Linked DNA regions of Homo sapiens: region 1 is linked to region 2. A link means that fine-mapping ties the variant in region 2 to the expression of a gene that starts in the linked region. Tissue or cell type: whole blood. Region 2 holds a variant in brackets; the other region holds the start of a gene. All regions are shown on one strand. Distances are between the middles of the regions.

What was found.
Region 1: LRRN3 starts here. The variant in region 2 is fine-mapped to the expression of LRRN3 in whole blood (TOPMed, PIP above 0.99).

What each region holds. Positions count from the first base shown.
Region 1 is chr7:111,088,891-111,094,280 of GRCh38, forward strand. It overlaps LRRN3 (leucine rich repeat neuronal 3), which reads left to right and starts at 2,237. Exons shown (of 3, transcript NM_001099658.2): 1 at 2,237-2,614. All of the region lies in intron 3 of IMMP2L (inner mitochondrial membrane peptidase subunit 2), which reads right to left.
Region 2 is chr7:111,017,201-111,022,590 of GRCh38, forward strand. The region is part of intron 3 of IMMP2L (inner mitochondrial membrane peptidase subunit 2); the gene reads right to left. Among named protein-coding and RNA genes, the nearest start is that of LRRN3, 71 kb to the right of the region's middle. The variant C/T (reference allele first, on the strand shown) is at 2,325.

The sequences.
Region 1 (5,390 bases), 72 kb after region 2:
AAATTCCAGTCAAAGAACAGAATCGCCATCCTTTTCATCCAAAGCCAGAGTCATTTTCTCTTTCACATTAAAATCTCATTTCTAGTGCTCCATGATATTAAATTTATAAAAATGAGTATAAAATATTTTAAATTTATCATGTACCTACATTAAAAGGACAATTGCAGGAAGAGCACTCTGATCTCCCACTTTCAAAAGAGTGATCATTTAGTTAAAACAACTTCCTATGAAATAATGTAAGATAACATATAAATGGCTACCTTTAACAATTCTAACTGAATCAAAACTGAAAAGATTTTTTCTTGATTTCTGAAACAGACTGAAATTTAAGATATTAGGTATGACTGCAGTTTCATTTAAAAACCAAGAGAGGAGTTTAATCATGTATCTGACTATCACAACTTACCTTCATTATGGGAGTGCATTATAATTGGTTTGATTACTGGACTTGTCAATTATACAGTCAATACCAATCAATGAAAATTAATCACTTAAGATACCATGGCATAAATAAAAATTCTCTTTTTACAAATAATTATCACAATTTTAAGATTATTCTTCCATATGTGGAAATAAATCCTGCAGATACTGAAATAATTTGGAATATTAAAGAAACTAAGATTTGCTAGATTAAAATTAAGGGGTAAGAAGGATGATTATTACTATTATTAAAAGTACATTAAATTATATGTAAATATACTCTAACACAACATCCCAACACTCAACCATGATCCCTAACATACAGAACTGACTCAGTGCTTTCTGAGTAAATACTAGAGTATCCAGTAAATAATAAAACCTTACAATAATATTCTGAAATAAGTATTAGGTTAAATGAGATGCTACTTTTATCTTGAACTTATTTTGATTCATTTGAATAAATTCTTATAGAAAAAAACATTTGGGAACTGTTTCTAGAAAACTACAGAGTGAAAATATTCAGTATTTAAAGACAAGCCTACTGTTTAAAATTTTTCCTGGTATTATTATTATTATAATAACTGCAAACTATTGTTCTATGTCATGTCAATAAGCACTTAAGGAGCAATTAGATGTGAAGGTTTTGTTTTTTTTTTCCTAAGTAAATCTAATAAGTGCCATTTCTCTTTACTCCACTAGAGGGTAGTCTCTCAAAACTGGGGTTGGAGTCATGACTAGCCTGCTTTTGACCTGTTGATATATTAATCCTCATGTTCCATTCTCCTCAACAAGATGTTTCTCTAGTATACTAATTAAGGTTGTAAAACATGCATTTTTAAAACTGCTTTTTGATTTTTCATGTATGTTCTTTCAGAAATATGCACTGCTATGTGTTTCTGTGTTTTCCAAATTTCTGGTAATTAATAAAAATGTTTTACATGTATGGCTTATATAGTATATTTTCCTGGGAAATATCCTTTCAGAGTTAATAGGCCTAAGAATAAAGATAGTCTTTTAAATAATTTAACTTATTACAATCGAAATATTTCCCCAGAGTGGTAAAAAATACATCCTAAATACACACACACACTCACAGATACACAAACACACCTACACATGTACCCATTCATATGTAGCTCCTAGATTTATTACATCATATAAAGAGAAGTCAGTGAGTATAATTAGAAATACATATTTTTAAAAAGTACCCCCTCAAATGCCAATGTTGTGAATTACAGAGAGGCAAATATATGCTTTATTTTAAAAATCTGGTCAATCCAGACAAGAAATGTCATTGCTAAAAAAAAAAAAAAAAAAGTGTTATTGAACACCAAGCACATATGCTAAATTAAGTAGGATCTATAGAGAACCAAATGCCACTCAAAACAGTTGCAAGCTTCTCTTCTTAAATAATGCAGTCATTGCTGAACTTCAGAGACGGAGTTGGAGGTTTGAGTCTCTACCAGGTGTTTTTAATATTTAGGAAATCCTTATCAGTAGTGTGTCCTCTCTATTTGCAGACTGAAAACATATTTCTCTGAATGACTGATAACCTAAAATTGAGAAAACTTGTCAAAAATTCCCAACATTCCCTCAGAAAGGAAAAAAAAGAAGGAAAATGATACCTAGGAAAACATGCAAGCCTGTTTCATTTATTTGTATCCTAAGCAGCAGTGTCATAGAACAGACAGTTTGTTTCAGCCAACCAGACTGGAGCAGCTGCGAGTGCTACATCTTGGCTGTCTGAAGCGATTGGCTCCTCTCTGGGGAGTGGAGGGTGTTCAGTTATTAATGACCGCTGAGCAGGCAGCACCATGTCAGTGTGACAACTGATCGGGTGAACGATGCACCACTAACCACCATGGAAACAAGGAAAAATAAAGCCAGCTCACAGGATCTCTCTTCACTGGATTGAGAGCCTCAGCCTGCCGACTGAGAAAAAGAGTTCCAGGAAAAAGAAGGAATCCCGGCTGCAGCCTCCTGCCTTCCTTTATATTTTAAAATAGAGAGATAAGATTGCGTGCATGTGTGCATATCTATAGTATATATTTTGTACACTTTGTTACACAGACACACAAATGCACCTATTTATACCGGGCAAGAACACAACCATGTGATTATCTCAACCAAGGAACTGAGGAATCCAGCACGCAAGGACATCGGAGGTGGGCTAGCACTGAAACTGCTTTTCAAGGTAAGTTTAAAATACACATATATTTTAAAATACGTTCTATTTCTTGTCTCTTCGATGATCATGTTTTTACACCTAAATCCTCCTTTGATGTCTTCTTCTTGTCTGAATTCTAAGAGCATTTTTCTTTTATTGCACTTTTGAGAAGAAATTCACATGCAAAACCCAGCTGGCTCTGTGTGTGCCTAGCTGTGTTTGTGAGATTCTCCAACATGCATTTTACTAGCTTGAATGCCCATTAGAGGATGTGAGTGGGAGAGAAAAAGCAGTGTTGGGGGGAGGAGAAAAAGGAGGGAGACAGAAGAGAAGGGAACAGTGGGGGAGAAGAGAGGAGGAGAGGGAGAGAGAAGGAGATGGGGAAGAGAGAAGACAGAGAGGAGACAGAGAGGAGAGGAGAGTCACGGGTGATGGGGTGCAATTTTCCTTTTTCTTCACATTATTTGTAGTGAAAAGCAGATCACACATTATTCTCTGTTTTGAAATCAACCCACCAAATGGGGCATTTTTATTTTGTCTCATCCAGTGGATGCAAATTAAGGCAAATGCTGTTGTATGTTAAGAGCTAAACCACTAAGCAGAGTAGCAGAATGAGCATATCACAAACAGTTATTGAATTTCTGCCAGGCTACATCTTACGGACTGGGGTAAATGACTTCCCTTTAATAACATCCCCTCGCTGGTCTGAAGGGACAGTGCAAATGTCTGATTGCTAATGCAGCTGGAACTGCCACACACTAGGTGAAAGGATCCCATGAACCAGAAGAGTTCTAATCTTTGGTAATTAACAGGATCACAGCAGGATGGCTTTAAAGTACATTTCCTATTTAAGAAAATTGTTTGTTCTAACCAACTGCTATATTCCCTTTGCTGTTGTTGAGCTGGATGGCTTAATTCGGCTCTAATTTATTCATTTTTAACAATATGTCCTTGTTTCTCTGCCTCTAATTTCAGTGAAAGCAGGCTATGAATATGAGTAGAACCGTCCTAATTTAGTGAAAAGGGGATAATGTGAAAACAAAAATAGAAGTAAAGGTTCAAAATATCTACCTAGAAAATAGTGTGCTCTGGTACCATAAATATTACTGATATATTTCTCATCTTTAGTTTCAGAAGCAATGCCTTTGAGACAGAATTACTCTCAGTAAACTCTATGAGCATCCATGTATTGATGATTCATGGAATTCAGTGTGGGTTAATTTTTACTTCCAATCTTGTAAAGGGAAGCCAGCTACTTAGAATATGCTTTCAAACAGACAACACCAATTGAGGATATTCATGGAAACATTCACTGCCCTCTTTACTGGGTCCTGGAAAGACAGTAAAAGAAACCTAGCATTTGTATTTCATCTTCTGGAGCTCTCTCCTGCCTTCTTTTAGTTCAACTAACCACACAGTTAACAGAGTCAGCTTCTTTGAAACTGTGGGTTATTTTTTTCCACAACTGTGATTTCAGAGCTATTATTGGTTTCCTAGTTTGTAATATAAGCCAAAGCAAAAAGACAATAACCAGCCACTTAGATCCTGCCACTTTCCCATAAATGTGTCAAAAAAATGAGTCAGTTTACAACATGTAATATAAGAAGTCAATTAATTCCAGTGACCTTTGTAAATGATGACAATAAAGCAGCTCTGACAATATGCCAGTGGCTTCGATTTTCTCTCTGTAAGATGAACAAGTTTAAGAAGAGGGTTCCTGCTCAGAGAAAAATGAAAGGTGCTGAAGCATCAGCTTGCAATATTGGCAGCTTTGCTCGCTCTGCCTCAAATGCCACATGCAATCTATAAAAAAAACCAAAATGATTTATTACAAAAAGGAAAAAGTGTTTTATTTGCTTTTCTGCTATTTATTAAAAGTGCTGCTTTTGAAACAGACCAGATCTGATATTTTGAGGTACCTCCTAAGTTCCTAACCAAGAGGAAAAGACTTGAAGTAGATACTCAACCCTCTGATTTCAAACTCCTATATAATGTAGCATTGCAGTATTTAATTCAGTTTTTCTTAGACCTTTTCCAGGGAAAGTTTGCATGCCAGACACACATTCTTAAATCTAACCCGCCTTATTTTAAAATTGCAATAGATGACACCTAAGAACAGTGGATTCACTCTTTAACCTTAGTAAAGCTCACATACATATTTTGTGGATTACAGAGATCAGTAATGTGCCCACTTCAGTCTGAGAAATACCAACACTCCAGGCCCCCGGTGTTGCCACTCAGTGTGTGCCAGTGAGTTTGGTGATTTGATCAGCACCTACGAATGCCAGATGATGGACATTTGTGTATGACTGGAAGATTTACCCATAGTCTCCCCAAATCATGTAACTATACCAGAAATAGCACCTTCCTGGCAAGACAATTCAAAGGACCATTTTTTTCAGGGTGTCGCTTGTCACAGGCAACATGCTGAGTTAGAATGCTGATGAGTAGGTGGAATTTTTTATTTGGAGGTGGTGGTTGTTGTTGTTAATGGCTTAATAAACGGTGCTACCAGCCTTCCAGGCCAGCAATTTAGTGACCTACAAAAAAGGTGATCAACTTATGATGCACTAACTATATTTCACTGTTTCTTTGTTCTTTCCTTTTTTGTAACATCTTTTGCTTTCGCCATGTGATGGGTTTGATGTTTCACTCCTCCCCCCGAATCTGAATTTTTTTGGGGTGTAACATTCCTGTGTAACATGGCACTATGGTATTTATTACAATCTAAGTTGATCAGAAAGCTCTATAACCGGAGTTTCGTTTTAAAAAAACACTTATGTAAGTTAAATGTTATTACTTA
Region 2 (5,390 bases):
GGGACCACAGGTACATACCACCATGCCTGGCTCGTATTGTTTTTTTAGAAATGGGGTCTCATCATGTTGCCCAGGCTGTTCTCACACTCCTAGGCTCAAGTGATCCTCTTGCCTGGGCCTCCCAAAGTACTGGGATTACAGATGTGAGCCACTGCGCCCAGCCTTGTTATTTTTAACTCCATGGTCATTACTTACTTTCCAGTAATGTCAAAAGTCTAGGATAACATAATAGATTATTATGTGGGTTAGCTGGAAGGAGGGTAATGTATACTGTACCACAATCTTGTGCCTTGAAAGTCAACTACCACAGGATCAGTGACTGAAAAACAGGAGGCTTAGATACCCCACTCCCAGATATGGAAATTGTCTGACATCCTCTTCGTTGTCCTTTCTTTTTACTCCCCTTCAGTTTACCTTTACTTGCCTTTATCTTAAGGGACACAATCCCTTCTTTACCAGCAGGTAGAGGTTTCCTTGGTTTTGACCCTTTGTGTTATGTTCACTGTCATTCTCTCTCCCTAAGAAACCCAGCTAAGGGCCCAGCCCTCATTAAGCCAGGCTCACAAAGATCCAGACAAGTCTCCTAAAAGGCAGATGACCGTGGTAGGAGCCATCAGAAGAAGAGAAACTACAGAGACAATGTCAGAGAAAATACCCATTCAGCAGAAAGAAAGACTCCTAACTTTATAAAAATAAATCATTTTGAATTATATACATAGGCTTACTTTCCCAAAGCAACAAACCTACTTAACAACACTTTTTGGACAAACTGTTAGTCATCTTGGAAAATGAAAGCAATGGATATATTTAGTGCATTTGGGCTCTAATATACATTATCAATCACTTGCAAGTTACAGCTCTTCTTAAACTGTGTTTGCTTTTCTATTTTTCAGTTCTAAGGCAGCATCATTATTCTACTATTATTTGAACCCAGGTTATTTTTCAGAAGGAGGAGGAATGTAATAATTTCCTATACATATATTGTTCTGAAAGGTAGCAAGACAAGTTTCAGTGAGGCAGAGCCACCCCAGGTGTTCATTAAAATCACCTGGCAGCATGGTGGGACACAGTGTTAATAGAACTCAGTATTAATGGGACAAGTGTTAGCGGCTCTGTGGCGCAAGTGTTAATACTGATTGCAAATTGTGCTTGATGATATACATAGGAACCTCTGGATCCTTCACTTACAAATAGCATGAAATGGTGGATGAAAAGTAATGCCCTAAAACACAGGACAGTTTCTAAAGAAAAGAAACATTTTCCTTGTTCAAACTAGAATTTAACTCTCGGCTGTTCTGTGGTTAAGATCTACAACGTAGAAACATTTCAACAGTAACTAACACATGTGGCGCTTTGTGTGTAGCAGCCACTGTTCTAAGTATTTTGCATAAACTCATTTAATACTCAACCCCTACAATGCCAACAGACAGCTAACAGAATTGTTCCCATTTCTCGTATAAAGAAACTGAGGCTCAGAGTTAAATGATTTGCCCAATACCAAATAGGTAGTAAAAGGATAAACCAAAATTTGGATGACATACTTTGGCTAGAGTCCATACCTCTAACCACTGGAAATTGTGTGTCTTTTTATTATTATTATTATTATTATTATTATTATTATTATTATTATTATTATTACAAGCATCAGTATTTTTTATGAATACTCATTTCACAATGGCATTGATTTAAAAAAAATCCTACACCTACATTTGCAATGGTTCAATCTTTCTAATAACCTAAATCAGTTAATTAAGACAAATTGTCGACTGAGTTAGTGAACATATTCAAGCTAGCTAGGGGTGTAGATAACTTCTAAATAGAGGATACACTGTAATGACTAGTTATTCCATACCTAGATTCTGTGCAGATAATTCTGCTCCTTGAAAGCAGAGATTACTATCTTTATATTCTGAGCACCTAGCATAGTGTAAACAGTCAATAAATGTGTTGAATGAGGATGGAGGGTAAATAAATCACACTACATGAAGGAAATATCTGTTGGCATTGAGAGGGAAAAAAACTGACGAGGGAGGAGGATGGGGAACTAAAGGTGACTGTGAGCTCTTTGCTGCCTTTGCTCCAGTGTTCCAGGGCTTCCTTACTTTTTGCAAAGCTCCAGGATCTGTATCCTTGCTGTGCTTGAACAGAGTTCAGGCAGCAGGGCAAGGGGCAGGGAGAGCAAAGTGGGAAGTCAGAAATCAGAGCAGCCCCGCAGCAGGGAAACTGCAGTGGTTGAGAGTCACAACCCCACCCTCCTGGGAGCACTGGCAGGAGTGAGGTGCCCAGGAAGCAGACAGAGGGGGAGGCAGCCAGTAAGGGGGCCT[C/T]CACCTACTTTTCAAAGAATCAAGAAGTCACACTGAAAGAAAAAAGGATTTAGCCTCCTCTTACACAAGGTCTTCTGTCTTCCTTTGAAAATGACTTTAGAAAAGAAAAGACAAGGTTGAAAAGGAACACAAAAGAAAGTCAGACTCCTGCCTAGAGAGTTAAAAACATGTTGGAAGAGCCAGTATAAATCAGCAGCTAATGCCAGTGCCTTTGGAAAGGACCCACTACCAGGGGTTCTGGAGGCTGGCCTGGTGACACTGTTTATTATACCCAGAAAAAAAATTCTTGGAAGTAAGGGCATAAATTGAAAGGCAACTCAATGACCCTCCTTCCCTCTGCTTTCCATATTCATACCTTTCCATTTTTCTGGAATACAGTAACATCTCCATGTCAAGCCAAAATGCCATCTCTTCCATGAAGCATTTCCGGATCACCAGAAGGATACTTTCTCTACATAGCTCTTAGATGTCACTTGTATAGTATATTCACTTACTCAACAGACACATATTGAATGTCTGCTATGTGCTAGGTATCTTTCTAGACACTAGGGATACAACAATTAAAAAAAAAAAAAAAGGCCTAGCACGGTGGCTCACACCTGTAATCCCAGCACTTTGGGAGGCTGAGGCGGGTGGATCATCTGAAGTCAGGAGTTCGAGACCAGCCTGGACAACATAGTGAAACCTTGCCTCTACTACAAATACAAAAATTAGCCAGGCATGGTGGCTTATGCCTGTAATCCCAGCTACTCGGGAGGCTGAGACAGAAGAATTGCTTGAACCCAGGAGGCGAAGGTTGCAGTGAGCTGAGATCGCACCATGGCACTCCAGCCTGAGTGACAGAGAGGGATTCCATCTCAAACAAACAAGCAAACGAAAAAACCAAGATGCAAATTCCTACATTTAGGGAACTTACGTTCTACTATAGTATATTGCACATTAAATTGGAGTTGTTGGCCGGGCAGGGTGGCTCACGCCTGTAATCCCAGCACTTTGGGATGCTGAGACAGGTGGATTGCTTGAGCATAGGAGTTCAAGACCAGCCTGGGCAAAATGGTAAAACACTGTCTCCACCAAAAACACAAAATTTAGCAGGGTGTGGTAGCATGTGCCTGTAGTTCCAGCTACTCAGGAGGCTGAGGTGGGAGGATCACTTGAGCCCAGAAGGGCAAGGTTGTAGTGAGCTGAGATGGCACTAATGCACACCAGCCTGGGCAACAGAATAAGACCCTGTCTCAAAAGAAAAAGAAAAAGAAAAAAGAAAGAAAGAAAAATAAAGTGAGTTATTGAAGTCTCCAACTATTATTGTTGAATTGTCTGTTTCTCCCTTCATTTCTGTCAGTTTTTGTTTCAAATATTTCAGTGACTCATATATTCAAATTGTTTTCAAAGGGATCTAAAAAAAGTGTGTCATGAGGTATTTCTTAAATTCCTGCTCATTTTTAACAAAATATAACAATTAGTAAAAGTAAAATAGATCAAGTATTTCCTCATTTGACTTTAATTTGCCAAAAAATAATGTGTAGTGATGAAAGCTACAACATAATTAATAAATTAGTAAATAGTAACCACACTATTCAGAATAACACTGCTCAATATAGAGAGTGGGTGAACAATACACTATTCCTTATACCAGGAAACTCCTAAAAAAGAGACTTGAGTTATAGGTTAGCTATTTCCTCATGGCAGACAAAACAGTTTCCATTATCCAGCTCATCTTTCCGCCCTTTCTCCCTCTTCTCACTCCTTTTCTCTTCTATTTAGCAAATATTTATTTTCTCATAAGCCTCAGAAAATCCTATCTGAAAGCAGGTATAAATTGAAAGCAGGTATAAAACATTCTTTGTAATTTGATTCCTTACTCACTGTATTAGTCTGTTCTCACGCTGCTAATAAAGGCATATCCGAGACTGGGTAATTTATAAAGGAAAGAAGTTTAATGGACTCACAGTTCTACATGCCTGGGGAGGCCTCACAATTATGGCAGAAGATGAAGGAGTAGCAAAGTCACATCTTACATGGCAGCAGGCAAGAGAGCTTGTGCAGGGGAACACCTCTTTATAAAACCATCAGATCATCTGGGCACGGTGGCTGACGCCAGTAATCCCAGCACTTTTGGAGGCCAAGGTGGGAGGATCACCTGAGGTCAGGAGTTCGAGGCCAGCCGGGCCAACATGGTGAAACACCATCTCTACTAAAAATACAAAAATTAGCTGGGGGTGGTGGCAGGCACCTGTAATCCCAGCTACTCAGGAGGCTGAGGCAGGAGAATTGCTTGAATCCAGAAGGCAGAGGTTGCAGTGAGCCAAGATCTCACCACTGCACTCCAGCCTGGGTGACAGAGTGAGACTCCATATCAAAACAAACAAACAAACAAACAAACAAAGCATCCGATCTCCTGAGACAGCAAGGGAAAGACCCGCCCCCATGATTCAATTACCTCCCACTGGGTCCCTCCCATGACATGTGGGAATTATGGGTGCTACAATTTAACATGAGATTTGTGTGGAGACACAGCCAAACCATATCACTCACCCTAATCAATCAACATTTCCTAAGTAGAATCACCTATGCTGAGCATTATGCCACCCTTCTTCCAAGTGAACCAAATCTGGCCCTGTTCTGCCAACAAATCCTAGTCTGAAGCCAGAGCCATTTTCTAAATCTCATATTTCCTGCCTAAGTATGGGGGAGTCATGGGCTTAGCTATAAAAATTCCTAAGACTAGGGTGGTATGAGTGAATGCAGGCTGGGCATAGCAGAAATGTAGCTCTGGCATCATAATTTCAGAATCAGTGACATCCTTAGAACGAAGTGCCCCCATCAATCTAACAAAGGAAACAAAACCCCAGCTTAATGTTTGCTTTAAGTTGCCATGATTTTCCTACAGACTCAGTGCTGCAAGTCAATCTTTACAAGTGTTTTTTCAGCCTGGGGGCAAGAAAATAAACAAGACCCCAAGAAGTGTTAGGAAAGGAGAAGACTTTTGAAACTCTACTCCTCCTCAGATGTTCCGAGATACACTGCTCCCTCAAGAATCTTAGTGAGTAGCTGTGGTTATGATGG